4 separate regions of the Homo sapiens genome follow, and regions 1, 2 and 3 are each reported to be linked to region 4. Evidence: microRNA targets listed by miRTarBase, many of them from high-throughput screens and not tested one by one. Region 4 holds a microRNA gene; each other region holds the end of a gene's coding sequence.
The links. Region 4 holds the annotated microRNA hsa-miR-3612 (AGGAGGCAUCUUGAGAAAUGGA, at 4,282-4,303, opposite strand). A microRNA usually pairs through its seed, bases 2 to 8, with sites in the 3' UTR of a target mRNA and lowers its output. Matches are read on the target gene's strand: a 7mer-m8 pairs with bases 2 to 8, a 7mer-A1 pairs with bases 2 to 7 and ends in A, and an 8mer does both.

Region 1 (7,888 bases), not on the chromosome of region 4:
AGGGGTGCAAGGAGCCCTTGGGTAACTTGAGATGAGATGCGAACAGAGGCGTCAATATTTTCAAATCAAGGGGGTTTCAAATGGAGCCTGCAGGGCCAGTTCCCCTGAGGTAGCCAGTTGATGCCTCTGGGGTATGGTTTCAAACGCCCCAGAAAACCAGAGATTTGACTCCAAATCAGCCTTCATCTGGACCAGTCCAGCCACCCCTCACTGTCACTAAAGAGAAAAATGAGAGGCCACAGGTGATTCCAGAACACAGACATGAAGGGAAGAGATGCTACCCTGAGATAGGGGTTGGGGGAGGGGGGCTTTCTGGGTCCCCCTCCCAGGCTCACTGGGTGTGACAAGAGAAGAGGAAATGGTTAGAGATGGGAGGAGGGGTTTGGAGCCCCGCTGCCTGACTCCCCCAGCATTGCCCCTTGCAAGCTGTGTGACCTTGGGCTGATTACTTGACCTCTCAGTGCCTCCACATCCTCATGGGAAATGGGGATCACAGCAGAGCTTTCCTGCCAGCACTGCCCAGGGGACTGAAGAGGGTGTGATGTGTTTGTGAGGTCATCTCGTCTTATTTCTGCTACGTATCAGCGGCGGCCAGCTCTTCACTGCACACCTCAGCCCTGACAGGGACCCCAGGGCAGCGGTGCCCACCCCGGCTGCCCCTGGAATGACCCAGAGCCCATGTCCAGCCTGCAGATCTCGGCAGCCGCTCTCGGAATCTCTGAATGGTGCAGGGCACGGCTGGGGCAGCAACAGTCCCTAAAGCTCCCCGGTGATTCCAAGCAATGGGCAGCCGGGGCTCACAACCGCGACCCTAGGGGTCCTAGAGACCATCAGACGCCACAGCCGTGGTTCTCAAACTAGTCCCGCATCGCAGGCACCTGGGGGTCCTTTGAAAATGCAGCTTGCTGGACCTCACCCCCAAAGGGGTTCTGTAGGTCTAGGGTGGGCCCGAGAATGTGTATCTAGTTCCCAGGAGACGTTGACGCAGGTCCAGGACCTGATTTTGAGAACCGCTGTCCTGCAGGAAAGTCCGCTTTCCCCAGCCTGGCGTTCAAAGACCAGGGAGGGTTGTCCCTTTAAAGCGCTGGGGAAAGCGCCGTGGCCCCACGATTTTAAACGGCGGAACTGGGGTGCCTCCTGGTGGAATCAGCGGGCATCGCAACTCGCGCGGATTCTTCCCCTGCTCTGGAGTCGTAGGTTGCGGGGGCAAAGGGAAGGGTCGTCGTCTGCGGCGCAGTTCTAGGACGTGGCCACATTCCCAGAGTTTGGGGATCGCTCATTTCCCGCTTAAGCAGGCCGAGGGGCCAAGACAAGTTCAGCCTCTAGGGGAAAGGGTCTGGACCCCGGGATTCTTCGCGGTGGGGAGGTGGCGGGGGAGGGGGGAGAGGGAAGAGGTGAGGGAGGGTCTGGGGTCTGGACCCCAGGATACCTTGGCCTCATCCTTGGGGGAGGACCATTCCGTCCCTCCCCTGGGGCCGGGAGGGCCGATTATTCGAGGGAGCCGTAGAGTAAGACAAACGTGGGTTCCAGCTCCCTTCCTTGCCTCTCTGAGCCTCGGTTTCTCTATCTGGGAAATGAGGGTGAAAATCTGCCTTCATCCTCTTCCCTCCTTCATCCTGCCCTCCTCTCTACAGAGCCAATAAAGACGCACAGACATATACATTCGAATGTGTCCACCCCCAGATCCACACAGAGACACAAACACATACACACACAACCTCAGCCCGCCAGTCACCTGGTCAGCTGAAATCAGGCTCCTGAAAACTCTTCAACCACTTCCTGCCATCCCCACCACCCTGCGCCGGTCCAGCCTTAGGCCTGTCCCCTAGGTTCCCGCCCCAGCCTCCTCCTGCTCCAGCCTTGCACCCTGCACACGACAGACCTAAAGCATAAACCTCTCCCTCTCCTGTTCAAATCCCTCCCATGGCTCCCCAGCGCTTAACGAGGCCCTGAGGCCCTGCCAGTCTGCACGCCCTACTCCAGGGACCTCTTCATGCTCATTTGCTGCCTCAGGTGAAAATCCAGCCAGACAGCGACCACCATGGAGGCAGGCGGCCTTCTTTGGCGTCACTGCCTCCACTCCACCAGCACTTAGCCTGGCATGGGAGGGGCAGTAATTACACGCTAATAACCCCCTACAGTCATACCCTTGGCTTGGGAAGCTTTTGCCCTGGCTCTTCCTACACCCCGGTCATGGACTTCCCCCAGGCAACCGCCGGCCGCACGTCCTTCGGGTCTTTGCAACATTCAGAGACCCCGTCTCTACAAAAAATGCAAAAAGTAGCTAGGCTTGGTGGCGCGTGCCTGTGGTCCCAGCTACTCTAGAGGGAGGCTGAAGTGGTGGGAGGATCGCTTGAGCCCAGGAATTCGAGGCTGCAGTGAGCCGTGATCGCGCCACTACACTTGTCACCTTCTCAGTGAGGGCTTCCCAGGCCACTTTCCCAGGCCCGTTTATGACGACTGCAAACCCTCTCCTGCCCCGGCCCTCCTCGGGCCCCCTGCTTGCCGGACTTTTGTCCCCCAGCAGGTCTCACCCCCTAATGCATGGATTTCGTCCTCATCTAGGGAGCGTAACCCCAGCCTCCCCACCGCATGCTCCCTGCGGGAGGGTCCTGTTTCCTGCACCAAGAACAGGGCCTGGGACGCGCCAGCCCTGGATAAATCTCATGGACTGCGCGGATGGCGCTGAGGGCTCCTCCCAGACAGTCGCCTTCTCTCCCAGGAGGGGGCAACCGCGCTCCGCTCCACCCGTCGCCAGAGGCTCCACGCGCGGGACAGACCCGGCTGCTGCAGCCTGTGCTGGTCTCTGTGCACCGGGACCCTTCCCTGCAGGATCTCAAGGCCTTTACGCGGCTGCTCCTTCGACCCCAAACACTCCTCCCCATCCCCGCCGGAGCACTCCCTCCAGGAATGAGGGAATGAAAACAATGTTTCTTTCCAGCACATTCCCCACCAGGCCTATCTGGGATCTGACTCACCCAGTCCGCGTGGTTCATTCCGACCGTCAGTCATTCAACAAATAACAGCCGCCGCCGCGTGCCAGGCACGGTGTTGGGGCTGGGGACACGAAGGGGAAAGGCCAAGCCACACTTTTTCCCTACGGAGCTGGCCCTAAGCCGCTCTGCCGCGCCTCTCCCCGCCACGCCCACCTGCCCCCATGCCGCATAGGTCCCCACAGCCACCGCTCAGGGCCCTCTGCAGGGGCTGCTGCTGCTGCAAGCCCACGGGGCGCTGGGGGGAGTTTGAAAGCAGGAGGAAAGGGACGCCATTTGGGGGAATGCTCAGGCCGTGGTGGCAGCAGCAGCTGGCGGTCACTGCGGTGAACCAGGGGCTCCCGGGTCTCTCCTCAAGCAAGCCGGCCCCGTGCGTGGAACTTGGCAGTCCTACACTAGGGCTCTGATCACCAGCCTTTCCCAAGTGGCTCCTCCAGCCCTCGGGAGGGAGCAGCTCCCTGCATTGCTAATATTGGGACAAAACGATCTCCCTGTTTTTGCACTTCCTGATTGCAATACCCCAGTCACCAATTTCCTCTATTAACCTCCCTGACAAGTACAGTCGGTGTGCCAGGGGGCAGTCATAGCTCTGAAAAATAAAGGGAGGAAGTGCAGAAAGGGTTCCTTTTTTTTTTTTTTTTTTGAGACGGAGTCTTGCTCTGTCACCCAGGCTGGAGTGCAGTGGCACGATCTCAGCTCACTGCAACCTCTGCCTCCCAGGTTCAAGCGATTCTTCTGCCTCAGCCTCCCAAGTAGCTGGGATTACAGGTGTGCACCACCACACCAGACTAATTTTTATATTTTTAGTAGAGACGGGGTTTCACCGTCTTGGCCAGGCTGGTCTTGAACTCCTGCCCTCGTGATCCACCCTCCTCGGCCTCCCAAAGTGCTGGGATTACAGGCATGAGCCACCGTGCCTGGCCGGCCACAAAGAGTTACATTTTTATAGGTGGTCAGGGAAGCCCTCCCTAGGAATGTGGCATTTGAAGAAAGGTCTGAGTGACATGAAGGTTGGAGCCACGCCTATAGCCCAAGGAAGGGCACTCCAGGCTGCAGGAAGAGCAGTGCAAAGGCCATGAGGCAGGAATATGCCTGGTGTGTCCCAGAGACCTGGGTGGCTGAAGCCACAGGAGACACAGAGAGGGCAGTGGGAAACAAGGCAGAGGGTGAGATGGGGGTGGAGTGTGTAGACCTGAGCTGCGAGGGAGAGCTGCATGCGATGGCCATGTCCTGCACCAGCACCGTGCAATGCGGTAGCCACTGGCCACGTGTGGCTCTTGAGCACTTGTGACGTGGCTGGGAAGACTGAGGACATGCATGTGTATTTTTATTTAATCTTAATTACATTTAAATCCAATTTACCCCGTGTGATTACCTAGTTGAACAAAGCATGTCTAGACAGTCCTAAGAACTGCAGATATGACGGCACAGGAAGGAGACCTTGGGGGATCTGGGGAGGCGAGGGACGCAATCAGACCCCAGGTGTGACTTCTAAGAGGACGTCTCTGGCAGCCATGTATGGTGGGGGGACACAGGATGGAGGGAGGCAGAAAACTCAGGTAGGATGGAAAGCTGAGTCTGAGGTCCAGGGCACAGGTGAGGGGTGGAGGCTGGGGGGAGAGTGCCTGCAGCTGTGGCCTGGCAGAGTGTATCTGGGTGGAAGCTAGGGTGGGGATTGGCTGGGCGGGGTCTCCATGGGTGTCCAGGGGCTTCGGAGCTGAGGCTGGAAGTGGGGAGGCATCAGGGGTGGGAGTGGAAGCTGGCTCAGATCTGCAAGGGGTGAGATGATGCTGGGGGGTAGGGAGAGCCAGGCAGGGATCCCGAAGCAGCAAAGGACAGTGTATGTAAACCAGTGACAGGACAGTTCCCAGGTATTCTGGGCAAACCACAGTCAAGACCGTGGACATCTGTGGCCCACGCTCCCACACCCCGCCTGCCCCACTGCCCAGAGCACAGAGAGAGTACAGTGCTGAATTTCACTTTACTGGAGGATCCAGGTGACACAGGGCACAGGGAGAGAAGCCTAGGACTGCTACGGGAGAAGCACACCTGGGGCCCTCCCCACCCACAGGCAACACCACAGGCTGCTGTGCCCAGCTCAAGGTACACCCAGCCTGGTCCTCAGTGGGTGGGTCACTGTCCAGGGACAGCCTCCAAGCAGAGGGGAGCACCCACGCCCTGCAGCAGGTCTCAGTCAGCTTCTACATCTGGGTGTCCCTGACATAGGACTGGGACAGTCTGGTCTGGACTGTGAGGTCACACCCAAACCCTCCTATTCCTTCCCAGGGACAAGTGGGGCAGGGCCCCCTGGCACGATGGGCTCCTCACTGCCAGGGAATGGAAATTGGGACGAGGAAGCACACACATTGCCCCAGGGACAAGAAGGCATGAATGAAGGTGGGGTCCCGTGGAGACTGATATTTAGGTAAAAATCGAGCTCAGCCGGGGTTGCAGGAGCTGAAGCATACGGCACGGCACGGCACAGACTCACATACAACTCAAGCGTGCTTGGGACAGCAGGTTGTGAAGCCTCACAGCACCGGCCCGCCTACTCTGGAACCTCCAGGGCAGGGCTGGGGTTTCCTCCCCAGGTCATTTCATCCCCTGTAAGGAGGGACACGCGGCCGGCTTCTGCACTGCCCAGGTGAGCCTCTGTCCCTCACAGTGCCCTTCGGGGCCCCTCTGGCCTTTAATTCACTCAGGGGGTGAACCCAGGGACTTTCAAGTCTTTTAGTAAGGGCTGCAAGGCCAGCGCTGAGCGGTGGGTCAGCTCCACTGGAGAGGGGGCACCCAGGGGAGCCACAGCCTATGGGAGGGGCCAGGGCCCACTCAGCCCAGAAGAACCAAAACTGGATTTTAAGTGAATTACCCCAAATTGAACACCTCTGCAAATAATTAGAATGTTGGGAAACACTGCAGTCTGAGTGACAAATTCAACTTGTGGTCAGGGGCAGGTGGCCTTGGCCTGGGGCTGGTTCCTTTGTTATCAGGGGCGCCCCAGTAGGCAGGGCTGGCATGTGTCTTCCCTCTGCTCCCCCCTCCCCCTCCTCCTCCTCTTTCCCTTCTCCCACCGTTCCTCTCCCCTTTCCTCCTCCTCCCCTTCCCAACCGCCTTCTATCTCTCAGACTTTCCTTTCTGGAATCATCTCTTCCCCTGGCTGGGAGCTGGGGCCTCCCCTGGCTGAGAGTTGCGCCCTGACACGCGCTGCGCGGCTGGTGACTGAGCCTCCACCACAGACCCAGGGCCCAGTCAGACTGGGGTAGGGGCGACAGCGGCCTACAGCACCTGCCAGGCGCAGGCCCCGAGAGCGCCACGAAGAGCCCTGCTCGCCTCTGCAGGTGCCCGGCGTCCACACACACACCCCCTCCGGGGGCAACCCGGGCCCCCAATCCTGGTCCACTTGGCGCGTCCCCATCTCGGCCCTGCGCTGCTGCCTCGGGCGCCCACTTCTCTTTCCTCCTCCCATCCGGGCTTCCTCCGTCGGGATCGCTGGCGCCCCCGGCCTGCGAGGGCCCGAGAGGGGAACGTGACGCTGGCAAAACGCGGCCCGGGCGCGCTGTGAAGCGAGGAGATTGCGTCTGCGGAGGACAGGAAGAGGGGAGGGGAGGGCGGGGGCCACAGGCGGGCGGGTGCCCTGCGGGGCCTGCTCGCAGCCTGGGCGGCTTCTTGGGGGGCCACTAGCGGCATTTAGGGGGCAGCCTCCGGCCCCGACGGGCCTTCTTCCCGCGCGCGGCCTTGGATCCAGTGGGCGCCTGGCCCTTGGCCTCGCCTGCCCTGGCATGGGCCCCGGCGCCCGCGCTCCCCTTCTTCTTCCTGCTTCCTGCGGCGTCGTCCTGGGCCGAGCCCCGGCTCCCGGCTTTCTTCTCGGGAGTGACGCCCCGGCCTCGGCCTCGGCCGCCCGCGCGGGTTTTGCGGGCCCCGGAAGCGGTGGGAGGCGCGCCGGCCGGAGTCAGGCCCCTGGGGGCCGTGCGCGCCCTCTTGGCCCGGGGCTTCCTGGATGCCCTGTCCTCCGGCTCCGACGCCTCGCTCTCGGTGTCCTCCGACTCCTCCTCGGACTGTTCGTCCGAAGCCTCCTCCGACCCCTCGTTGGACCCCATGTTCTCCCGGGCGGCCAGGAGCGCCAATACCTCCCCCAGTTTGCCTTTGGGGTATTTGTACTTCCCGCCTTCCCAGGCGTTTTCTTTTTCCTCCTTCATCACCTCCGCCATGTCCTGGGCAGCCAGGAGCGCCACCAGCTCCAGAAGACCCCCTTCGTCCTCACGGTGCTCGCTCCAGCCCCCGAAGAGGCCACGCCCAGCCTTCTTCGCCTGGGGAGGGAGATCCGGCTGCGCCAAGGTGGAAATGCACTCCCGGAGGTCCCCGTCATCCCCGGCCTTGCGCAGGACCACGGCGTCCACCTCGCGGCCCGCCTCTTCCACCTTCACGCGGGTCCCGTTAGTGTCCTTGGACATGACGGACAAGACCTGTCGGAGGGGGTCTCGCTTGTCTTTCTCGTCGCTCCAGCCCAGCGACTCGATAACAGAAGCGATTTTCAACATCTCCTCCCGGGCCCAGGGGTCCGACGGGTCGGTATAGGCCACAATGGCCACGAACTCAGGATTATCCAACTCCTCTGTTTCTTGGTCCCCACTTTCCTGCGAGTCGCTCTCCGAAGTGTCGCTGTCCACCGGCTCCTCGTCCGGGGTGTCTCTCACAGCCAGCAGGGCCACTAAGTCGGGGACACCATTTTTGTCTTCTTTGGTGTTCAAGCGGATGGATTCGGCCCCAGCTGGCTCCTTCTCTGCCTCTTCTTTCTTCGATTTGTCGGTGACGGTGACCAGAGCCAAGAACTCGCGGGGACCGTCTTCTTCCCCCTCGGAGTTGCAGGGCGCCCACTGCCTAACCAGCTCCCTGGC
Region 2 (7,888 bases), not on the chromosome of region 4:
GGAACTCTGCTTGTTTGGATGATTCCCTTCTGACTAGGGATGGTCTAAGTGCTACCTCCATGGGCAGGCATCAGCTGAGTTCAGTCAATTCCCGCTGTGACAGAGCAGCTCTGAGTTTAATGCAAAGTCTCACAGTTGTGCTCTCCCTCTCCCAAGCACACAGATTTTCTCTCTGTGCCATGCAGATGGTTCAGGGGTATAGGAGAGGGGTGGCAATGGCAATTCAAGACTATCTTTCATCTTTCTTCAGTGCCTCTTTCAGCGATATGAAGTTAAAACTAGGTATTATGAGTGCTCACCTGATTTTTGGTTCTTATGAAGATGCTTTTTTTGTGTAGATAGTTATTACATTTGGTGTTCCTGTGATGAGAGGATGATCAGTGGAGCCTTCTATTCGCCGTCTTGCTCTGCCCTCCTACCACATTTTTTAATTAAGATTTTATAGAAAAGCAGAACTGCTATCAATGATATAGAGTAAGGGATTTATTACAGGGATTAGACCTTAGGCAACAGCTGATGGATCAGCATTCAGGCTATTGCTTTTGTATCTAGTATTGGGCATGTTTTTCTTATGGCCATGATAGAGACAGAAATGGAAACAGAAAAGGCCTCTTTAAGCCTAAATTTGGAACTTCAGCACACCTTCATTTTGGGCTTATATTTTGCCTAAAGTCATATCCACAAGCTGAAGGTCAAGAAGATAGGTAAATATGCCCCTGTTCACAGTAGGAAGGTAATGCAAAATTGCATGACAAAAGGCATGGGTATAGGAGAGGTAAGTATTAATAATTAGGGCCAGTAACAATCTACTATGCAATCTAATTATGTATTCTTAAATTTCAGTAATAGTAGTAGTAGTAATAACTAACATCCATTGAGTGGTTACTCTGAGCCAGGCACTATTCTAAGTAATTTGTAAGTATCAGCCCATTTAATTCTCTTGAGAAACCTATCAGGTAAGTCTAATATTATTTCCATTTTACAGATGAGGAAACTGAGTCCTGGAGCAGATAAATAATAACCCAAAGTCAAGTAGATAGTAAGTGGTGAAGCCTGGATTTGAAGCACAGGGCCTGATGCAGAGCCTCTCTTGCTAACAGTTCCGGTCCCTAAAGCAAAAATTATAATAATCCTGCCCTTTTCTGAACTGGTCAATCCATTTTTGGAGTTTTTGTGTATGAGGACACCACAGGCCGAAAGCTATCCCAAGACCAGGTTGTGACAGGGTTGGAAACCCACTCCAATGGTAAATAAAACTAGGGCCCTTTAGCCAAATTCCAGGAAGCATGCTTTCCAGTATTTCAATGCTATTTTGTAAAAGAGGAATGAGAATTGTATTTTGTAGCCACCGGCAAATTACAGGTTTAAGCTGAAAAGCATTTATGAAATGCCCATCTCTGCAAGTATGCTGCTTGAGGATTCAGAGATAAGAAAAAATGAGTACACTGTCTATCTTGGAGGAATTTCCAGTTTAGAACAGGAGGGAAGCAAACTTGGGCTCCCCATAAGACTTTCTGAAGAATTTAACAGCTGGGCAGTGTACTGGGCTGCATTGTTGAGCAGTAGGTGTCCTTCCCTCGGAAGTATGTATGTGGGGGGTCCTGAAATCTCACCTCCTGGGACAGTACGGAGGAGACTTCCACAGTGAGTGCTGCCGGTTGTGGGGGGGCGGGGTTGGGGTTGGATTGGATCCCAAGCCAAGAACTGGTGATGAGAATATAAGCTCCAGGAGGATGAGATTTTTGTTGGTTGTATTCACTGCTATATTCCTAGGACCTAGGACAGTTCCTAGTACAGAATGAGTGCTCAATATTTAAATATATGAAAGAATGTGAATATTTTAAAACCGGGAGATTTCACATAAAAACCTGCATTTGCTTGCACTGAATATTGAACAAGTGGAAGATTTGGCAACAGTGGGCTTATCTATTTTTGTGTACGGAAGTGAAGAATACACCTTTGTTTAATATGCCACTAGCTCAGCTTCACTCAATTACATTGTCCGTCTGGTCCTGTTCTTTGCAGCCTCTGAGTTAATCACTGAAATCTCTGCCAACTCCAAGTGTCTACAAAACTGAATTTTATAGTTGAAATTTGGGAGCAGAGTTCCAAAATGGAGAGGTTTTCTGTCAATTAACAGTTTGCATTGTTTGAATATCAAGAAAATTGCCTACACAACATTTGCATTACATTTCATTACTTAATCAAATCATTCAAGATACATTTTTATTGCTATTACTTAATCAAATCACGCAAGATACATTTTTATTACTTTCATAATGTTAAACTAGACAAACCATTCTGACAGCAAAGGAAGAGAATATCTTTGTTTAAATGAGAATTTTAAAATATATAATAAGCATTATATACAGTATATTATATGCTACATATTTATATATGTAATAATATACAGTATAATATCTATAACATATGAGTCTTTCTGGAAACTGATCTATTTTAATAAGAGAAACAAACACAAAAGGATTATTCCACTATTTTTTAAATTATAAAACATACATTTCATTAGAATACAGTTTATAGTAATAACTTTTGAACTCCAGGATCACACAAACTGAGGCAAAATTTAGAACAAATGATCACCATAGCTAATGGTGGAATGTTTGGTTAATGCCTTTGAAACTAAAAATATCTTGAAAGCATCCTTTCTAGTCATCCACTTGTATGTAAGCCAAGAAAGAAACACACTTCTAGGCATCACTGGAGTGCCATGGAGGTGCATGGAATTAAGGAAATCATTTTGATCTTTTCTGGTCGAGTAAGGATCTTCCTTATTTTCATTAGTGTCATTACCCGCTGTTAAAAACATTTTATTATGTTGTCTAGAGGAACTACAAATGTGTTAGACAAGGTTTGCTGATTTCAGATATCAAGTTTGTCTCTTCTTACAGGTGCATCCGTGGACAAACTAATGTTACATTTTAAATTCCATTAATCAAATTCAAAATAATGGGAAGGTTTGCATTCTCGTCACTGTAGAATATCAGTCCATATCATCCTAGGGAAAGTTTGCCAATAAAATTGGTTAGACATCCAACTTTTACTACCGTGTAGTCTCATCAGTTCTTTCTTTCACGTGAGTCTATCTACGATTTTATCTTGCTGTTCTTTTCCAAGTTTTTTTCTTTTTTTTTTTTTATCATGAAGGTACTGCTTTCATAAGCTTGTGACCAGCTTTGTGATGAGTGTTGGTAATGGTGAAATGTCAAAAGGCAGGTGCTGTTCCTTTAACACAAGAAACAGACATTCTCCCCCAGGTACTAGCTTTCTAATATGTACAATAGATAGGCAGCTGGGTGCGGTGCCTCATGCCTGTAATCCTAGCACTTTGGGAGGCTGAGGCAGGTGGAACCCTTGAGGTCAGGAGTTTGAGACCAGCCTGGCCAACATGGTGAAACCTTGTCTCCACTAAAAATGCCAAAAATTTAGCCAGCCGTGGTGGTGCATGCCTGTAATCTCAGCTACTGAGGAGTCTGAGACAGGAGAATCACTTGAACCTGGGAGGCAGAGGTTGCAGTGAGTCAAGATTGTGCCACTGAAGTCCACCTGGGCGACAGACAAGCAAAACAAAACAAAACAAACGAACAAGAAACCCAAAAAAATAGCAGCAGAATAATCAAAGCCTCTTGGATGAACTTCCAGTTTTTTCCTTATTGATTTTCTTTCACTCTAAGATAGATCGTCATGATAAACTGCTTCAATGAATAACTTCTCTACGTAGGAAATGTAGAAAGCCCAAGCAATAAACCCAATTTGATTGAGAAGAACTATGAAGATGTCATCTGTAAAAACAATGCTCCTTTCAACAATAATAAATGTATTGGCCAGGTGCAGTGGCTCACCCCAGTGGCCCAGCACTTTGGGAGGCTGAGGCAGGTGGATCACGAGGTCAGGAGATGGAGACTATCCTGGCTAATACGGTGAAACCCCATCTCTACTAAAAATACAAAAACTTAGCCAGGCTTGGGGGCGGGTGACTATAGTCCCAGTTACTTAAGAGGCTGAGGTAGGAGAATGGCATGAACCCGGGAGGCAGTTGGCCGAGATCGCACCACTGCACTCCAGCCTGGGTGACAGAGCAAGACTCCGTCTCAAAAAAATAAAAAAAAAATAAAAATAAAAATAAAAATAAATAAAATAAATGTATCTTTCCCCAGTACCTTGGGATAGATTTTTTACATTGACTTGCTGTGCTAAGCAATGTGAAATGTTCTGATCCCTAGGAAATCATTTTCTGGGGAGTAGGAAATAAATGTGCCCAATTCTGAATTTTTGCCAATAGCTGAGATAACAAAGAGTCACCAACTGCTAGTTATCAGAGACAAGAGTTAAACTTGCATTTAAGATGATAGGATATTGGCTTTGCATTCTGATTTACAGAAATAAAACTTTATGGACTGAAAAAATAGCATACGTAATATAAAAAGAGGCTTACTCTTAATGTTCATGTAAAAATTAAAACTTCTGTATAATTTGATGTTTAAAATAAAATATTTCATGTAAACGATTAACTTTTAATGAAGTTTCTCTTTTAACTTCCATGATACATGTTCAAGATGTATTAAGTAAAACCCAAATGTGTACATACACAAACCTCTTATATATCTATCTATCTATGTATCTATCTATGTATCTATCTATCTATCTATCTATCATCTATCTATCTATCTATATATATATATATTTTTTTTTTGAGATAGAGTCTCGCTCTGTCACCCAGGCTGGAGTGCAGTGGCACAATCTCTGCTCGCTGCAACTTCCATCTCCCGGGTTCAAGCAATTCTCCTGCCTTAGCCTCCTGAGTACCTGCGACTACAGGCATGTGCCACCACACCGGGCTATTTTTGCATTTTTAGTAGAGGTGGGGTTTCATCATATTGGCCAGGCTGGTCTCAAACTCCTGACCTCAAGTGATCTACCTACCTTAGCCTCCCAAAGTGCTGGGATTACAGGTGTGAGCCACTGCACCTTGCCTATATATTGATATAAATGATGATACATATATAAAGCATTCTTCTGAGAAGTTGCAAAGATGCAAGAGTAGTTTTTCTGTAGGGCTCAGACAACCTGTCATACATAAAACAAAAGGTTCCCACATGGAAGGGTTTCTTTTTTTTTCCTTTCTTTCTTAATTTTTTTTTTTTTTTTTAGACAGAGTCTCACTCTGTTGCCCAGAGTGGAGTGCAGTGGCACTATCTTGGCTCACTGCAACCTCCACCTCTCCAATTCAAGAGATTCTCGTGCCTCAGTCTCCCCAGTAGCTGGGATTACAGGCATGCACCACCATGCCCGATTAATTTTTGTATTTTTAGTAGAGACAGCATTTTACCATGTTGGCCAGGCTGGTCTCAAACTCCTCCAGTGATCTGCCCGCCTTGGCCTCCCAAAGTGTTAGGATTACAGGTGTGAGCCACTGCACTTGGCCAGATTTTGTTATTGTTGTTTTCATGCAACAAATCTGACAGGAGAATAGGAGTCCAACCCCTGGAGTTGCATTGGCTGCCTCTGAACTCCCTAGAATTCTAAATTTATCATTCCATGTATTAATTATTCCAGTGATTCCTCCCATAAATAAGTTGTTCCTTGGGGAAAATGAGAGACAATTTGGGAAGTTGTGTTTCTTGTTTCAGGCCACTAGTAGTATATGAAAGAACCCCATTCTTGAGGGCTGCCCATAAGCATGTGCCCATTTGCTAAGCAGATAACCTAAAGACAAAGAGGCCAGGCATGGTGGCTCACACCTATAATTCTAGCACTTTGGGAGGCAGAGGTAGGTGGATTGCTTGAGCTCAGGAGTTCAACACCAGTCTGGGAAACATGGCAAAACCCCCCCTCTACAAAAACTACAAAAATAGTGGGCATGATGGCACACACCTGTAATCCCAGCTACTTGGGAGGGTGAGGTGGGAGGGTGGCTTGAACCTGGGAGGTCGAAGCTGCAGTGAGCTATGATCATGCCATTGCACTCCAGTCTGGGTGACAGAGCAAGACCCTGTCTCAAAACAAAAACAAAAACCAAAACAAAAACCAAAACAAAAACCAAAACAAAAACAAAAACAAAAACAAAAAAAGACAATGGTCACTTCCAAAACTCCACTGTTGAACCATACTGTTGAACCATAAGGTCACCTGGAGCACTGAAAGGATAGTTGATTCATATTTTGACCCTTTCCAACAAAACACTTTTCACTAAGTTAAAAATGTTGCCCCTACATTTTAGGAAGCCCTTCTCATACCTGTAAGTCAGTCTTGTCCTGTTTCTATCTCCATACACATTAATTTTCTTGGGGTCATGACTTCCTAACTTCTTCAACATTAATTCCAATTCTCTATCAGATAACTTAAAACACTGAAAAAAAAAGCAGAGTAAAAGAAAGAATAGAGGCTAATCTGAGAAGACTTAATTCTCTTATTTAGCTGTAAGCAAGTTGGGGTGGGGGTGCAATGTCATTTGTGTGTGTGTGAGGATTCCTAACATGTTGTGTGTGTGTGTGTGTGTGTGTGTGTGTGTGTGTGTGTGTGTGTGTGTGATGGAGTCTAGCTCTGGCACCCAGGCTGGAGTGCAGTGGCACAATCTCTGCTCGCTGCAACTTTCGCCTCCTGGGTTCAAGTGATTCTCCTGCCTCAGCCTCCCTCTCAGTAGCTGGGATTACAGGCATGTGCCACCACGCCTGGCTAATTTTTATATTTTTAGCAGAGATGGGGTTTCACCATGTTGGCCAAGCTGGTCATGAACTCCTGACCTCAAATGATCTGCCTGCCTCGGCCTCCCAAAGTACTGGGATTACAGGCATGAGCCACTGCGCCATGCCCCGACATGTTCTTAAAGAGCAGAAAAACATGTAACGCTTAGTTCACTTGAAAGCCTTCCACGGAATACATTTCAGTGAGTGACAGACACAATGTTTTTGTTCCATTAGAAGTATTTTATTTTAAAGTACACTTGAAATTTTAAATGTGTACAAATTCAGAGGTTTAAAAAACTTCGAAAGTCACAGACACAGAATTTAGGAAGCTGAAGGCTGAGAGTCTCCCTTCTCACTTAATCCATGCTTTATTTTGCATTCCTCACAGGTAAGGAGGCAGTGCCTAGAAGAGAAGCAAAAATAGACAGCGGTTTGTACTTTGACACTGGAAGCCCTAGTCTTTACATAACATATTATTCTTATTATTTTAACATAATCTTTTTAATAGAGATGTGGGGGGAGTCTATCTATGTTGCCCAGGCTGGTCTCGAGGGCTCAAGGGATCCTCCCACCCAACCCTCTTGAGTAGCTGAGACTACAGGCATGAACCACTGCACCTGGCTTTAACACAATATTAGAAATATAGTCTATGCTAAAGTTCACTAGCCTTGTTTTTTCAGAAATAATAGGAGTATTCTCCCATTCTGTAGGTTGCCTGTTCACTCTGAAGGTAGTTTCTTTTGCTGTGCAGAAGCTCTTTAGCTTAATAACATCCCATTTGTCAATTTCGGCCTTTGTTACCATCGCTTTTGGTGTTTTAGACATGAAGTCCTTGCCCATGCCTATGTCCTGAATGGTATTGCCTAGGTTTTCTTCTAGGATTTTTATGGTTTTAGGTCTAACATTTAAGTCATTAATCCATCTTGAATTAATTTTTGTATAAGGTGTAAGAAAGGGATCCAGTTTCAGCTTTCTACATATGGCTAGCCAGTTTTCCCAGCACCATTTATTAAATAGGGAATCCTTTCCTTATTTCTTGTTTTTGTCAGGTTTGTCAAAGATCAGATGGTTGTAGATGTGTGGTATTATTTCTGAGGGCTCTGTTCTGTTCCATTGATCTATATCTCCTGTTTTGGTACCAGTACCATGCTGTTTTGGTTACTGTAGCCTTGTAGTATAGTTTT
Region 3 (7,888 bases), not on the chromosome of region 4:
GTCTTAGTCACCCTTCGGAGGCTAAGCCTTGCAAACTCACTAGGTTTTATGTTATTCTTAATACCTTCTTAGGAGTAGAAAGATACCCAAGTCATCCTACCAAGGCAGAGTGAAACCAGTGACATCTTTTTTGTGGGAAACCTCACCCAGACCTCGAAACCTAATGTCAGCTCCTTTCTCTCTCTCTCTTTTTTTTTTTTTTTTTTTTTGAGATGGAGTCTCGTTCTGTTGCCCAGGCTGGAGTGCAGTGACACGATCTCAGCTCACTGCAACCTCCACTCCCAGGTTCAAGCGATTCTACTGTCTCAACCTCCTGAGTAGCTGGGACTACAGGCATGTGCCACAACGCCCAGCTGGTTTTCTGTATTTTTAGTAGAGATGGGGTTTCACCATGTTGGCCAGGCTGGTCTCCAACTCCTGACCTCAGGTGATCCACCTGCCTCAGCCTCCCAAAGTGCTGGGATTACAGGTGTGAGCCACCACGCCCGGCCATCAGCTCCTTTCTCTTAAGTGCTTCTATCCTAAGTTCTCTCCACAAGAAGGCATTCTTAGTAGGTCTTCCTCATGGCAATTAGTACTCTTTCATCACCACTTTCATTCCCTTTTAAGCATCTCTCCTCAATGGCTCCCCTTTACCTTGGCACCAAATTCCCATATAGTGTTCCCTTTCAGAAAGAGGCTGGTGTTGTTCTATTAGTCAAAGGAAAGGGAAGTCGGCCGGGCGCGGTGGCTCACGCCTATAATCCCAGCACTTTGGGAGGCTGAGGCAAGCGGACCATGAGGTCAGGAGTTCGAGGCCAGCCTGACCAACAGGGTTTTAGTAGAGTGAAACCCCGACTCTACTAAAAATACAAAAATTAGCCGGGCGTGGTGGTGCACGCCTGTAATCCCAGCTACTCAGGAGGCTGAGGCAGAAGAATCGCTTGAACCCAGGAGGCAGAGGTTGCAGTGAGCTGAGATCGCACCACTGCACTCCAGCCTGGGCGACAGAGCGAGGCTCCGTCTCAAAAGGAAAGGGAAGTCAAGAAAGAAGATACATTGAGATTAACATCTCTCTCTCCACCTGTCACTAACCAGAAATACTATTGCCTTGGTTAAGTTTTGGGAGGGAGGGAAAACTTTCCTATGTGTCTTATAAGGGAAACCAAAACTATAATTAAGACCACAGCATTATTATTATATTAGACTGGCTTGCTTCTGGATTTAATAAGTAGTTTGTTCCTGAGAAAACAAAGTATTAGGTAGTAGCCAAAGGTCCAAACACATCTGTCACTTCCTACACATCCCTACATGAGCCCCTTGAGGGAGAAGAGCTGTCTATGGCTCTTGAAATCCCCCAGCAACTTCTACAATGTGGTAAGCTGTAAATGCTCAATAAACGTGTCCCATGAGAAAACAACTGTCTGGAAATCAAGGCTTCTTTCTCCTCCTGAAGACCATGCCGTTTTCTCCATGATAGATATCCTTGCTACATGACTGGAGATAGCTCTCAATCCCTCTAGTTTGTTAGTGTTACATATTTTTTATTTCTCCCATCAGTTGTTTGCTAAATATATCTTAGGGGAAAGGGAGTCCCCTACAATTACTGCACTGTTTTAAGTGATTTTAAGTTACTACTGATAGCACGTGCTGTTTTCCCACAATAATTTATCTATAAAATCACTCCCTTAATTGATCAAGCATCTGTGAGTTGTAAAATTTCTTTTGGAGCAAAAGAAACCACCACAAACATGTGCTTCAACCACAGAATGTGACTGACCATGGTTAATGGGAACATCAGTGCTTCTGCCCTGTGAGTTAGACCAAAATTATTTGTCCAATATAATAGTTAAGACCTCACAAGCCCAAATGAAATACCAATGTTAGGTACGCTACAGCTGATTTGATCCAGCCAACATCTCTAAAGTCATTTGCTTTAAATTTTCAAGAGTCAGGGTATTACTCTTATTATCAGAGCAGCCAAACATCACATTTATGAACCATCACAGAACACAGATCCTTTGCCCCTAAGTCAGACAATAGGACAAAGGTGCAATCTGTAAGATTCTGGGAGTATAAGTAAAAAGAGAAAGAAAAGTTGATTTAGAATTAAGTGGACTTAGAATTACTGGCCAGTATTCAACTATGTGAGAACCTGACTCACTCCTGAAGGGAAAGCTGTGCCAGCAACTGCTGCCAGGTGTTCCGAGTAGTGAATGCATTCAACTAGCCAATTTAGAAAGAGCGTTTATTTCAGTCTGGTCTACTAAACTGCTCTCAAGCACAGCACTGTTCTTTCCCAGAACTGGAGATTCAAGCCAAGCAAGGTTACCCATTCCAGTGACAGGAAATGGCAAATATGATTAATAACTCCTTGTCATCTAAATCACTCCACTGTTGGATAACTTCTAGCCCTCCTTAATAGTCTTGTGTCTCTTGCAAATATAATTTAATTTTATCTTCTAATATTTTATGGATGATGAAACTGTGAGCCAAAGTCACTAAGTATAGTTGCATCTTATTCTTAAACCAATTCTTTATCAAATTTGCTTAGTCAAAGTTGCCTTTGAAATTCCACTAAGTCAGACATTAAGTACATGGTATACAATCTTTCACATTAGTATTTACATATCACAAACACTCATGTACCATCTTTTAACAAATCAAAAGCAGCTAGTTTTCCTTCCAACATCAGAACAAATCTGTTTGTTCAACCATACAATAAATGAGGTAGTTGGCTTCACATCTGGAGACCGTGATGTTTGAAAAAGTCTCTAAACACTAGAATCACTCTCAATACAGCAAGAAACTCAAACCATTAGAACGCAAAGGGAACCGAGACCACCTGAGTACACAGGTAGCTCAGTGGGGCTGTCCTCACTGAACGAACACTGAACACAATTGCATGCACTATTTACATGGCACCTTTTTTGGTCCCAGTCCTGTACAACTGTGTAAGATGATGCAACTGCACTGTACCTTTCATAAAATCCTCCCACCGAGGCTGTGATTCAGGAAGGCCCAGGACCCAGGGTTTCAACGTCCCACCCTGGGAACTTCCACAAGGTCTCACTGTTCTCAGTTCATTTTTCTTTCCCTGTGCCTTGCAAAACATGCCATATGTTAGGTCTTCAATGCTTGACTAAATACACTGCAACCAGATTTGGGAAAGGTATAAAATGAACACTTGAAAATCTAAGTGTCACAAACTCCCTATTAAGAGCAGGCAAGATCTCAAAATATTTTCCCTTCACCACCCTATTCCTTTCCGCAAGGCGAAGCCCTAATAGTCAATAGGGAAAAAAGAACTCATTCATCTGTAAGGAATGGAAATGCTACATGCAAAACCCAAGACTGGAAGTTTAAGAAAAGCCTCATTTGCTCCAGTACAGTATATAACGTTCCTTCAGGAGGAATAACTCAGAAAAGGCATTAAAAATGTGGGAGACCTCAGCAGAAAAACACCAGCATAGTATCTAGGGAGTGAACGGGTTAGTGGAAATGAAAACATTACACATGTGTACCATGGGTACATATGCTCTATGAGGCAATGTGTATAGACAACTAGAAAAACCACACAGCCTACTTTTCTCTATAGTCACACAAACTCATTGGGTAAATGAGTTAGAAAAAGAGAAATAAAATTGCTCCTTTAAATCAGAATCAGGTAACTGCTTAAATACATAAAATACCAAATCAGAAGAAAAGTCTAAAGATATACTTTTGGTAACTTCATAAAATTCAGCCTCTTTTGACAATTTTAAATAAGGCTTTTTTTCTTGCTTTGTTTTTGTTTTGTTTGGGAGGATTACAGTTTAGGGATAAGCTTTTCAAGTTCACTGTATTTTTCTAGCATCAATCCTGAAGTCTTGTATTTCACATGTCAGAGTAATCTGCACTAGTATTTTGAGCAACTCTCATTTTATGGTCAGATGTGGCAGAAGTTTTCCTAACCATATTAGTAGGAGCTTTCAAACATTTTTTAAAGGAAAAAAAAAAGGCCTGTCTTGTGGTGCTTCTTCCCACCACTCCATTGATCTGTGTGGCAAGGGTTCCTACAAAATTCCCAGGGAAGGGGTAACTTTCAGTGCCATAAACCCCATTCACAGTAAGGATTTTCAACTACACCCTAAAACTATGATGGTTCTGGGCTCCTCCAACATATAGCTCAGTGAAGATCATCTTGCCTGAGAACTCTGAGGTCCTTTTCACTGCTGCCAAGAACATAAAACTAGGAGAGGGTATCTGAATGGTGAATGCAAAGTCAGCCTGCACTGTGTAGCAGTTTACATGATGAAGCCGAATTTAAGAACTGATCTGCTAGATGGATCCCACTGGTAGAAATGATCCCCTTGCCAAGGTTAAGTGTCACCTCTAAAGGAAGCCCTAAGTCCAAATGAGCCTTGTTTACAAGGTATAATATAAAGAGACCTATCCTTCTAATAGCTAAGTGACCTCCAATCCCAAAGCAGCCACTCTGGGAGACCACACACACCACAGCAATGCTATCATGGTTGGTAACAAGGAATCCCTCTTTGGAAACAGCTTTCTAAGCTTCTAGCATTTTTAATACCCGCAAGGTAAACTTTCATCCTTTGAGGCTGTAGTTCATTGTGCTAACAATTCAAGATCAAATCTTGTGAGCCAGATGGTACAATCCAGGTGGATACTGTAAATTTTCATCAGTATCAAAAACAGCGACTACAGAATAATGACAAACTTTTTGTGTGGTTCATAAACTGATTCCAAAAGTGACTGCAGAACTAGCCAAAAAGCAACAAGTTTGTACTAATAGCTACTATTTATTAGATAGTCTGCAAAGCACTGTGAAACATTACATACATTATCTCAATTATTTTTTATGAAAACCCTATGAGGTGGATATTTACGTCCACGTCTACAGATAATGCAAGAGTTTCTGAAAGAATAAGCTACAAACCCGTGACATGCAATTTACCTATTAAATGAATCTAAAAGTTTAAAAAAGCTGGGCGCAGTGGCTCACGCCTGTAATCCCAACACTTTGGGAGGCTGAAGTGGGCAGATCACTTGAGGCCAGGAATTTGAGACCAGCTTTGCCAACATGGTGAAACCTCGTCGTTACTAAAAATACAAAAATTAGCCAGGTGTGGTGGTGATGCCAGCTACTTGAGAAGCTGCAGCACGAGAATCACTTGGACCGGGAGGCAGGAGTTGCAGTGAGCCAAGACTGTGCCACTGCACTCCAGCCTGGGCAGCAGAGTGAGACTCTGTCTCAAAAAAAAAAAAAAAAAAAAGCCACTTGCCCATGATCACGCTGCTAGGAAAAGTCAAACCATAATTTAATCCTAATCTGTCACACACAAAGACAACATTGACAGGAATAAAACTTACTTCCATGTAGGAGAGATGCAAGTTGTCAAAGAGAAGCAGAATCACTTTATCATATACAGAATCAATGTCATCACTGTCTGAAAAAAGATGCTCTGAACAATTCTTCCAGTTTATTGATTCTGAACCTGCCATGTCTTCAAAAATGGCATTATTAGTGAAGCTGCTCAACAAGTCCTCTGAAACAAAACAGCTAGCGAAATGGGTATTTGTATTTAGTCTAAATTATACTTTTAGGACTTCATCTTATAGCTATACCCTGAATCGATATGCTTAATAACATTAGGATTGAAGTTATCACTGTAATAGCAAAAGAACAACCTAAGCATTCACCAGTAGCAGATTAAATCAATTATGTTATATCTATTCAAAAAAATTTTAGGCAGCCAAAAAAAGAATGAGGTTCCTTGCTACTTACATGCTGGTATAGAATGATCTCCATTAAAAAAGAAAAAAAGAAAAAAAAAAGGCGAGGGCTAGACCTCCATGTATAGTTACTATTTGTGTTACACGTGTTTGTTTAGGCACAGACTCTTTCTCAAAAGTATAAGGCGAAGTGGTAACAGTAACTTGTCAAACAGGAGCCAGGAGCCAGAGAACAGGGGTGGGAGAGGCCCTTTATATGAAATTACTTTTGTATCTTGTCCCATGGCAAAAGTTAATTATTCAAATTTTTTTTTAATTTAAAAACAATACAAGCTGATTATACATTTGACAAATACAAGGAATTTCTGACTGCAGGAAAAAACAAAGCATCAACTACAAAGAGAAGCAGAAATTCTTCTTGAGCTGCTGATTTTACTATACATTTGGGCTATATTTTTTCTTAAGACAATCACTACAAAGTAATAATATAAATACCTTTTTTAATGTGAAAAGGTATAAAATCTCCTTTAAAAACTTTTCACTTATCCATCATATAACATCAAATGTACCTGTAATCCCAAGTATGATTCTTTTGAGAAGGAAAAAAGTCAGATCAAATACATCATTAAGGAAAAACATGCACACTAAATAGACTATGAACTCTACTGGGACAAAGACCATTATTTTGTGTATTTTTTCATTCCCCAATTCCTGACAGGATTCTCAGAATCGTTTCTTCATGAATAGCAAATTGACTTATTGGTTAAATTAGCAACTACAGAGCTGCCTAACAACAGTACAAAATAAATGAATAATTCACCAGAAACTAGCTCTAGATACTAATTTTAATTACTTTGCAGCAACATAATTTAGTACCAAATGTTTAACAAGTACCCATTATAATTACTAAACTGTGAAGTCACTATTATTTGTATCTGACCAGCTATACAAAACTCATCAATTTTTCTTTTGAAAAAAGGTAGTAAAAATCGCAAACGATAAAGAAGACACTACTCATTAAAAGTCATGTTTACTAATCTAGCACCATAATTCCAGTCTTAGAACCTCCCATGCAGTTGGAAAGGGATTATGGGAAGAGGTGAGTATGTTGGAAATGTCGGGTAGTTCTCAAATTGGGGCCCCATTTTGCTTGCTTTAAAGCAAAAAACACAGGGTCTAGCAAAGAAGAGAAGTGCTGAGGCTGGAGACGAAAACAAAAGCTTTTGGTTCAGATAGTAAACGAGGCCCTCAAGAGCAGTAGAATCAGTATATCCTGAAGGCAGTGCTGGAGGCAGTCTCATGCACTAGGGGGTTTCTTCTTGGCATCCAAGTCCTTTTTAATTTCTTCAAGTTTTTTAGCCAGGTTTGGTATCTTTGAAGAGAAAAAAGGTTATTATAATTTTGCATCTACCTAATCAATATTCTTGTACTTCTCTTCCTCCAAAGATAAATGGTTTTACAAGCTTTTATCTTCCTCCAAAAGAGATCTGCTAAATAGTGGTTATTTCTTTTTGCTTTCTTTTTTAAGATAGGGTTTCACTCTGTCACTCAGGCTGGAGGGCAATGGTGCAAACACAGCTCACTGCAGCCTTGACCTCCAGAGCTCAAGTGATCCTTCCCGCCACAATCCCGCAAGTAGTTGGGACCACGGACATGCCACCACCCCTGGCTAATTTTTGTATTTTTTGTAAAGATGGGCTTTCGTCACACTGCCCAGGCTGGTCTCGAACTCCTGAGCTTGAGCAATCTGCCCACCTCGGCCTCCCAAAGTGCTAGGATTACAGGCGTGAGCCACTGCACCCGGCCAATAGTGGTATTTCTTAGCCTTATAACTGCATGTGAAAGATATCAGAAGTTGTCAGATAAGTATGCTCCTTCTCTGAAACCCACTTCTACTTTTGTATACCCACTTCCGCTCGATCTGGTGCCAAGTAAAGGTTGTACATATAAACAATAAATGTGACATAATGTAGCCTTTGCCTAGAAAACTGTATGACTCAAACGAAGGTTGACAAAGGAATTCCCTTTGTCATATGAAAAGCTTTATAACAAATCAAGTTAGTATCATGTTTCCCTTGCTTGTCTTTTTCAAACTCCTGTCCAGAATCCCCATTCATAGGCTGCTGCACCACCTGGTTTTCAACATCACCACCTATAAAGTGAGGTTAATACA
Region 4 (7,888 bases):
AAACAGACAAAAAAATCAACATAACAATTGCCCTGTAGGAAGAACATTTTGCGCTGTACCAGTTGCCCTTTCGGAAGGAACACATTCAACAAAACACAATGCACATGGCCCGGGGGAGGAGAGGGCGGGAGAACCTGAGGCTGGAGAGCCTGGGGAGCTCCACCACAGAGGGTCATGGGTTAGTTTCTGGAACAATGGGAGCCGCACTGGGGTCTTAAGCAAGGGAATAACATGATTAGATGTGCATTCTCACAGGTGCTCTCTGGCAACATCCTGAACCTGTACTGGGCAGAAGGAGAGGAGATAAAATGGGATAAAAAGAGGAAAATGCTTTGTAACCTTTAAAGCTACATTCATAGCTAAAGGCGGGGTGAGATTACCCCACAGGCTGTCACACCAAACAAAAGCAAAACAGGGAAACTAACATGAAGGAGGGAATATTTTTGTAAATCATTTGATATTGAAGTCATCATCATGAGAAAACAAATATTTTGTTGGGTTTTCTTCCATTTGCTTTATGGCTAAGTACTATTTTAATTGTGAATTGTAGACAGGTTGAGCAGGGCCCCATAATTTATTTTCAGTGCTTGGGGTCTCTAAGGAGGTAAATGATTGGGTTTTAACTTTTTTTTGAAAAATTATAGAGTTTTTGCTTAAAATCATGTGGGTGTCAGAAGGAAAAAGTTCAGAAGAGATACCAAATCCTGGAAAAAGGAAAAGAACTGTGCCCACCAGGAGACACTGCTACACTCTCTGAAAAGATTTGGGGGTGAAGGGTCAGAATTAAAGTCAGACCTTCTCAGTTCAAGTCGAGTGCCTTCAAAGCCAGCTTTTGCAGGCCTTGGTTAAATGTTAACCCTAAGCAGGAGAGACTAAGTGGGAAAGATTCAACATCAGTTAAGGCAAGACAGTCACTATCCCAAGGAGGGCGAAGCTTATTAGAGACCCGGAGCCATGATAGCACCCGTAAATTACTTAGACGCATGACCAAGGAGTAATCCAATAATCCATTTATGACTTTAAATGAATCTGGCTGCACACTAAACCCCTTCTGAGTTTACAAACGTACAATATTCACAGCCACTGGCCTCCTATCGGCAGGAGGCCATCACGTCCAGCCCAACTTCTGCATGGTGTTCACAGCACAGAAAATTAACCAGAGCCAAGCAGTCAATACCATATTATCCCCTTCACTGCAGTTATTTATTCTATTTGTTGCTCTTCATTTCAAGCCAGCACCAACTGAAAAGATGGCCAGTCCAGCCCCTAAAAACAGACCCTTGCTGCTTTCTATTGAATCATGAAAGTTTAAAAAGGGGAAAACTTACATATGCACTTTGCAATTAAGAAAAAAAAAAGACCATTTGACGGAATTACAGCTGTATTTCCTACATCCATAAAAACCTGGGATTTATTTTGTCCAAAGATCACGGGGTGTGTTTTGGTGAAATATGCAGTTTGGGAAGTCTAGTCTAAATCTAGCAATTCCCAAAATGGTACAGAGATAAATATCTTTTATTTATATTATCATATATTTATTTTAATGCTGGTTAGAAGAAAACACTTATAGTATATCAAACCCTGATGTTTTAAAAATAGTTTTGCTAAATTAAAGAAATGCATCAATTTAAAGGAAAACATGAATTTCTTGCCTACTCTTGACTTTATTGCCCCATCTTCTTCCTCATGACACTCACAGTCATGAACCTGACGGAGGACAACTTCCATTCTCAGGTCCAAGTGTTGTTCTATCTATCCCTTTAAGGCGAATCCAGCTCCCTTTCTAGTGACTGGCTACAGAATGGCTCTGTGCTCTAAATATGACCAGAAAGACAGAGAGGAAAGACAGAGAGGAAATTAATGGCTGGGCTGGCCCTCCTTTGTTTTTGAGAGAAGCCTCTGTAAAGCTGGCCACTCCTTCTAGCCATAAACATATAAACTGTGTACCCTAAATACCAGTGTCATCTCTCCTGTGACCATGAGAACAACCAGTCTTGGGGTGAAGCCAGGATGTCATTAGAGAGACAGAAAGACTTTGATCATTAAGGGGAGCAATAAGCCACTGCATCAATTAACCTGGAAACCACCCTACTTCTGGAGTTGCTTTTTAAGATAATATGTTTCCTTACCATTTAAGGCAGACTGTATTCGTGTTGTTATTACTTGCAGCCCAAAGCATCCTAATTATAAAACGTGAACCTCCAATGATTGGGAAACTCAGGTCTCAATGCTGGATAGGCCCTGAGTCCTGTCTCCTGGGTTCAGGCATCAGGCCAAAAGCTTTGCATCTCAAATCAACAAATACTCTCAAAACAAGGGTGCTACTTCAGTAAATATAGGGGACAAAGAGAGACAAAGGGACTTGGACACTAGGAAGAAAGGGAGGCAAGGGGAGGTACAGAGAAAACCAATGTTCACTCATTCTTGCAAGATGCATTTCACTGCTTATTATGTGTTGAATATCCCATTACAACCTGAAGATATGGAAGGTAATAAGGAAAGGCCCATGTCTTCAAGAAATGACAGAGCAGAGAGAAAGACAGAGGAATGTACAACTAAATATGGTCTGAAAAGTACAATATTCTACAAGGATCAAGAAGGAAATAGGAGAAATTTTTAAGGTTTTTTTTTTTTAATTGGTGCTTAAAACTGAAATCTATGACTGGACTGGTCTCTGATCACTGAGCAGAATTTTATGTGGGGCTCTTATTTTTCTTCTTTCTTCAGGTTGTACCCCACCCTTTTTTCTTTCTTTTTTTTTTTTTTTTTGAAGGACTTAAAAGGCACATCAGTAACATTGGAGGGCAAGTCTAAGAAGTCGGGTAAGGAATGAAAGCATACCCAGGGGAGGGGGTGGAAGGTAGCAGGCTGTTACAGACAGGACGCCCTGGACATCACAGTTTCAAGGCGGTCATTATTTATTTTCCATGTGACCCTACACGTCTCAGTTTTCTCATCTGTAAAATGGGGATGGAACTGCCTTCCCCTCAAGTAGGTCTGAGGCTGAGAGGGAATGATGCTGATGAAAGGTCTTAGTGAATAGCTATAGCTATACCAAATATTTATTTTGGGACTGGGTGTGTTGACTCACACTTGTAATCCCATAACTTTGGGAGACTGAGGCAGGAGGACTGCTTGAGGCCAGGAGTTCGAGGCTGCGGTGAGTTGTGATTGTGCCACTGCACTCCAGCCTGGGCAACAGAGCAAGACCCTGTCTCAAACATAATATAAATTTATTTCTAGAGCTAGCTCCATACAGAATTTCAAAGAACCTTGGGGCACTTGAGTACTGGCATCTATTTGTATACAAAACAGGATGAAACAGGATAAATCATTTCTTTCTCAATTTTTTAATTTTTTTTTTTTGCTGGGGGACAAAGAAGCTTGAACTTCTTATCTATCTACCTATCTATCTATCTATTATTTATTTATTTAGGGCTCACACCAAGCATTGGTTCCTCAGATACAAGTCAAAGATGAGGAAAATGGAGGCATTAAAATATTTGAAATCTGACTACAAAATGGCTGTGTTCTAAACGTCTTTGTTCCTTGAAAATTCATGTGTTGAAATCCTCCTCTTCAGAATGGAGGTCTTAGGAGGTGGTACCTTTGGGAGGTGATGAGGTCACGGGGGTGGAGCCTCATGAATGGGATTAGGGCCCTTATAAAAGGGTCTAGGGAGATTCCTCTCCCCTCCACTGTGAGAGGACATAGGGAGAAGCCCTGTCTATGAACCAGGAAGCCGGCTCTCACCAGATAGTGAATCTGCTGGTGTCCTGATCTTGGATCTCTGGGCTCTGGAACTGCAAGAAACAAATTCCTGTTGTTTAGATGCTTCCCAGTCTCTGGTATTTTGTTAGAGCAACTAGAACAGACTAAGACAGGTGCCAATCATAAAATATCAAATTTCTTCCCATGCTCAGAGTGCCACCAGCCATTTCTCCAATGGCTTGCATTTTCTACTCTTTCCAGAATTAGAGAGGGAGAGGAAGTCAGCTGAAGCCTGAGTCCTGTTAGGGCCACCTTGCTGTGTGAGTCACTGAAGTGTGGTTTTGCTGCTGTTGAGCATTGTTGGCTGGTTTCTGCAGATTTGGTAAGCCCCAGTCTCATTCAAAAGCCCCAAAAGTGAGACGCGTGTCTGGTCTCCTTGCTCCTGTTGGTCTGCTAGGCTTGTTCTACTAGGACACCTTTGGACACCTTCCCATGGGCGGTTCACAGAGGAAGATGCTGAGCTAGGGGTGTCAGGACGCCTCTAGTGAACTGGAAGTAGATCCCATTCCTTCCATTTCTCAAGATGCCTCCTCATCCCCAGTCCCCAAAGTGAATGACTGAAGTTTCTACTGCTCTGCAAAACCCAAGATAGGTCACCATTTTATTCCATTCTGATTCCCCCAGCAGACACAACCACCTGATTCCCCTTCGGAAATATTCTGCACCAAATGAAATCCGAGTGAGGTCATTAATTATGAAAATTCACAATGCGTAATTATAATAATTACTCTGATCACATAAACATTATACCACCATGAATAATTTAATAGGAATTGTGCTTTTGAAAAGCATGGCAATTAAAATAAAACCCAGGGAGGTGACAGAGACGATGCGGGAAATATATGCTCCAGTTTGTTCAGAGGAGGCTGTGCAGTCTCCAGAATGCTCACTCTTTGCCATAAAGAATCACTCTCGACCTTAGGAGGTTGGGAGACAAAGAAGGCAATGAGAGACCTGAGAGTTTACAAATGGGCTCCACTCCTGAGAAGTGGAGATCAAGAGTTCAAAGAGAGGCTGTTTTTCCCCTAAATAAAACAAGTTCAATCATCTTTATCTTTATCCCCCAGCAAAATAAAATAAAATAAAAAATCCTGATTGAAGAAGAAATGATTCATCCTGTCTGGACACCAATTCTCAAGTGCCCCGAGGTTCTTTGAAATTCTGTAAGGAGGTAGCTCTAGAAATAAATACAAGTTTTCTGGCCTCCCGATGGGTGGTGTGTACAACTAAGCAAAACAATCAGGGTGAAGGGATTACATTTTGCACTAAAAAGAAGAAATAAGACCAATTTACCCTGTGACTTTTATTAACCATGACAAAATCTTTTTTAAGTACCTTACTAAGTTTGTGAACAAGCAGCAATTTCTGCAATGAAACGGCCCCCTGAGATTAGGGAATTAAGTTATTTGGAATGGTTGGAAAGGAGAGTTTATACTGTGGAGAGGTGCAAAATGAGACCAGAGGGAGTTTGGACCCAGTTTTTAAAGAGGATCCTCTGTCCTCACTGACAGCAATCCAGGAGACACTACAGGTTCAGATTTGCACACTCCTTACCGTTCACAAAAAGCTGAACTATTATCTTGCTGTCCGGCTTTCAAATTTTTTGAAAATCAAGGTCTACTGTAAGAATCACATTTTACAACACAAGTTGGTGCTCGTGCTTGCATATACACACACACACATACACATACCTACACCAACACACAGAAAACACAGACCTACCATGTGAAATGTGCTCTATTAGGAATAGAATTTCTATGCTATTCTGTTTATGAAAGAAAACTGCTGACAGCAACAGTCTATCAAGTTAATTCCACTGTGTCATGATCCACAGTTCTTATTGTACACTTAACAGACACTTATGAAGTGCCTCATCTAGGTACTAGGGTACCTAGGTACTAAGTACACTTATGAAGTACCTCATCTAGGAATTTAGGTACCTAGGTACTAAGTACACTTAACAGACACTTATGAATACCTCATCTAGGAACTTAGGTACCTAGGTACTAAGTACACTTAACAGACACTTATGAATACCTCATCTAGGTACTAGGGTACCTAGGTACTAAGTACACTTAATAGATATTTACAAAGTACCTGCTGTGTGCCCAGCACTCATCTAGGTACCAGGGTTTCAGTACTGGCAACAGAGACAAAATCTATGCCCACGAGGAGCTTACATTCTACTGGAACAAGTTAGAAAAAACCATTGACAAACCCATTTCTTACAACTGCTGGGTGAGGAAGTTGGGCAGGGATTGTCAAAAACAGGTTCAGGTGGGGAAGTGTGGGCCTGTCTCCCTTGTACACAGCAGGAATCTCAGGGAGGCCGGCTTTGTTTCCAAGGCTTTCCTCTAAGTTTTGCCTTTCATTCTGTTTGACCACGATTCTTTTGACTGCAAGAAACAGAAAGCAAACTTGAATGTGCATAAGAAAAAAGTGATATTTTGTCAGAATTCAGCCAGAAAAACAAAACAAAACAAAATGCTGTAGTTACTGGAACAGAAGGGCTTAAACATAGGAATTGATTACGTAGTGAGGCAAGAGTTATGAAGCAGAGACGGATGGTGAGACACCTAGATACCAGCGACAGGAGGGCACCCCGCAGCCCTAGGGGAGGAGGAACAATGGGTCCCAGGGGGTTTCCAGGGGCCAAGGCCACCCGTGGGGCAGGGTGCAAACCAGGACACAGTGCGCAGAAGCTGCCTCCGGTCAGCCGGGGTTCCTGAGACGCCCTGGCCATCACTGCAGGCAGTCCAGGAAGAAAAGCAAGAAAAGGAGAAAAGCACTGTGGCTTTCCCCACTTCAATCTCCCTCCTGTCTTCTGCCACTGCCTCAGACAGGACTAGAATGTGTCCAGAAGCCAGAAAACAAGGGAACCTGGGAGGTGCAGTTCCCTATAATCCAGAAGTGAGCAGGGGAAACAGGATGGATCTGAGGAAGGAAAGGCAGGCACTCAACCAGCACAGGACTCAACCAGCACAGGTATTGAGTGGGATTGCTCCAGGGCATATCCCTGAGTTACGGGAACAGCAGGACAACTGAGCCTTGGGAAAACAGGAAGCTAAACCAGGGACCCCAATCCCTCCCAGACTCTCCTCCCCCTTTCACCTATTTCTGCTGTTCTGGGAATCCCAGCATCATCTCCTCCCGCAGCAGGTCGGCTGCATTCACACAGTTGGTGCGGGCTGCAGGCAGCTCAGCCCCTCAGTATCAGCCCATCCAGGGGAAAAGGGCACCTGGCACTGTATGGAGATGTTTTGGTTGTCATCAGCGAGGCTGGATGCTGCTGGCATCTAGCGTGTGGGGACAGAAACTCTGCACTATAGGGTGAAAACGGTACCTACACCAGAGGGGAACTGGACTTCAAAGGACTTCATTTGTGTCATGACTCCTGGGAGGTTTGCAACACCTCTATAGATATTTATTTCTTCTTGGATGTACTTGCAGGGGAATTCTGGGATCGCCTTGCAGCTGGCTCAGACCATAAGAATGTCCCTCGAGAATTTGGGGATTCCTGTGCTGCTCGGGTCATCCAGCTCTTTAGAGGCCTAAGAGCTGCAGGACCTCACCTCACCAGGAGGATGGTGCACTCACCTACAGCACGCTCCAGTTCAGTGGCTTTCATTGTGGAAAAGATGTAAACTTCCATTTGGACCAGCAATTCTCAACTGGGAGGGGTGGGATATGTATACATCAGAATTCTGAAATGGGTTTAGCATTAAAATGCATATTCAGTCATTTCTATTATGAAATTGGGAAATCACTTATTTCTTTTTTTTTTTTTTGTTAAATGAGCCACAGAAGGCAAAGTGAATCTATTTGTTGTTCTTTTGGCTTGGAGAATAAAGAACAGGATCTTTAAGGGATCATGTTCTCTCCTCTGAGAGAAGGAGTGGAGAAAAATCTCTGGATTTTTATGTTTATTTGGAAAGGGCATATATGTTTAAAGTTGGGAAATGCTGACTTGTATGTTGGTTGATGGGCCCAAGCCCAGCAATGTCCTGGTCTGGAATAATTCAGCACCTGGCCAGGGGGGACCCTATTTGACAATTCAATGGGGCTATAACTCCCGGTGGAACAGTGCGTCACACATCTTCAGTGTCCGATATGGTTT

Region 1: the mRNA of PNMA8B is a reported target of hsa-miR-3612. Seed matches in the 3' UTR shown: 7mer-m8 at 4,727-4,733, 7mer-A1 at 4,598-4,604 and 7mer-m8 at 4,536-4,542.
Region 2: miRTarBase lists OCIAD2 as a target of hsa-miR-3612. The part of its 3' UTR that is shown has no 7-base or 8-base seed match.
Region 3: miRTarBase lists STMP1 as a target of hsa-miR-3612. Seed matches in the 3' UTR shown: 8mer at 7,002-7,009 and 7mer-m8 at 5,162-5,168.

Annotation. Positions count from the first base shown.
Region 1 is chr19:46,486,888-46,494,775 of GRCh38, forward strand. It overlaps PNMA8B (PNMA family member 8B), which reads right to left. Exons shown (of 1, transcript NM_020709.3): 1 at 4,304-7,888. The coding sequence ends at 6,671. Among named protein-coding and RNA genes, the nearest start is that of PNMA8B, 5.0 kb to the right of the region's middle.
Region 2 is chr4:48,878,459-48,886,346 of GRCh38, forward strand. OCIAD2 (OCIA domain containing 2) reads right to left here. Exons shown (of 7, transcript NM_001014446.3): 7 at 6,561-7,107. The coding sequence ends at 7,026. Among named protein-coding and RNA genes, the nearest start is that of OCIAD1-AS1, 22 kb to the left of the region's middle.
Region 3 is chr7:135,673,290-135,681,177 of GRCh38, reverse strand. STMP1 (short transmembrane mitochondrial protein 1) reads right to left here. Exons shown (of 3, transcript NM_001130929.2): 3 at 4,762-7,087. The coding sequence ends at 7,013. Among named protein-coding and RNA genes, the nearest start is that of STMP1, 15 kb to the right of the region's middle.
Region 4 is chr12:128,290,520-128,298,407 of GRCh38, reverse strand. MIR3612 (microRNA 3612) reads right to left here and starts at 4,316; the gene lies at 4,230-4,316. All of the region lies in intron 1 of TMEM132C (transmembrane protein 132C), which reads right to left.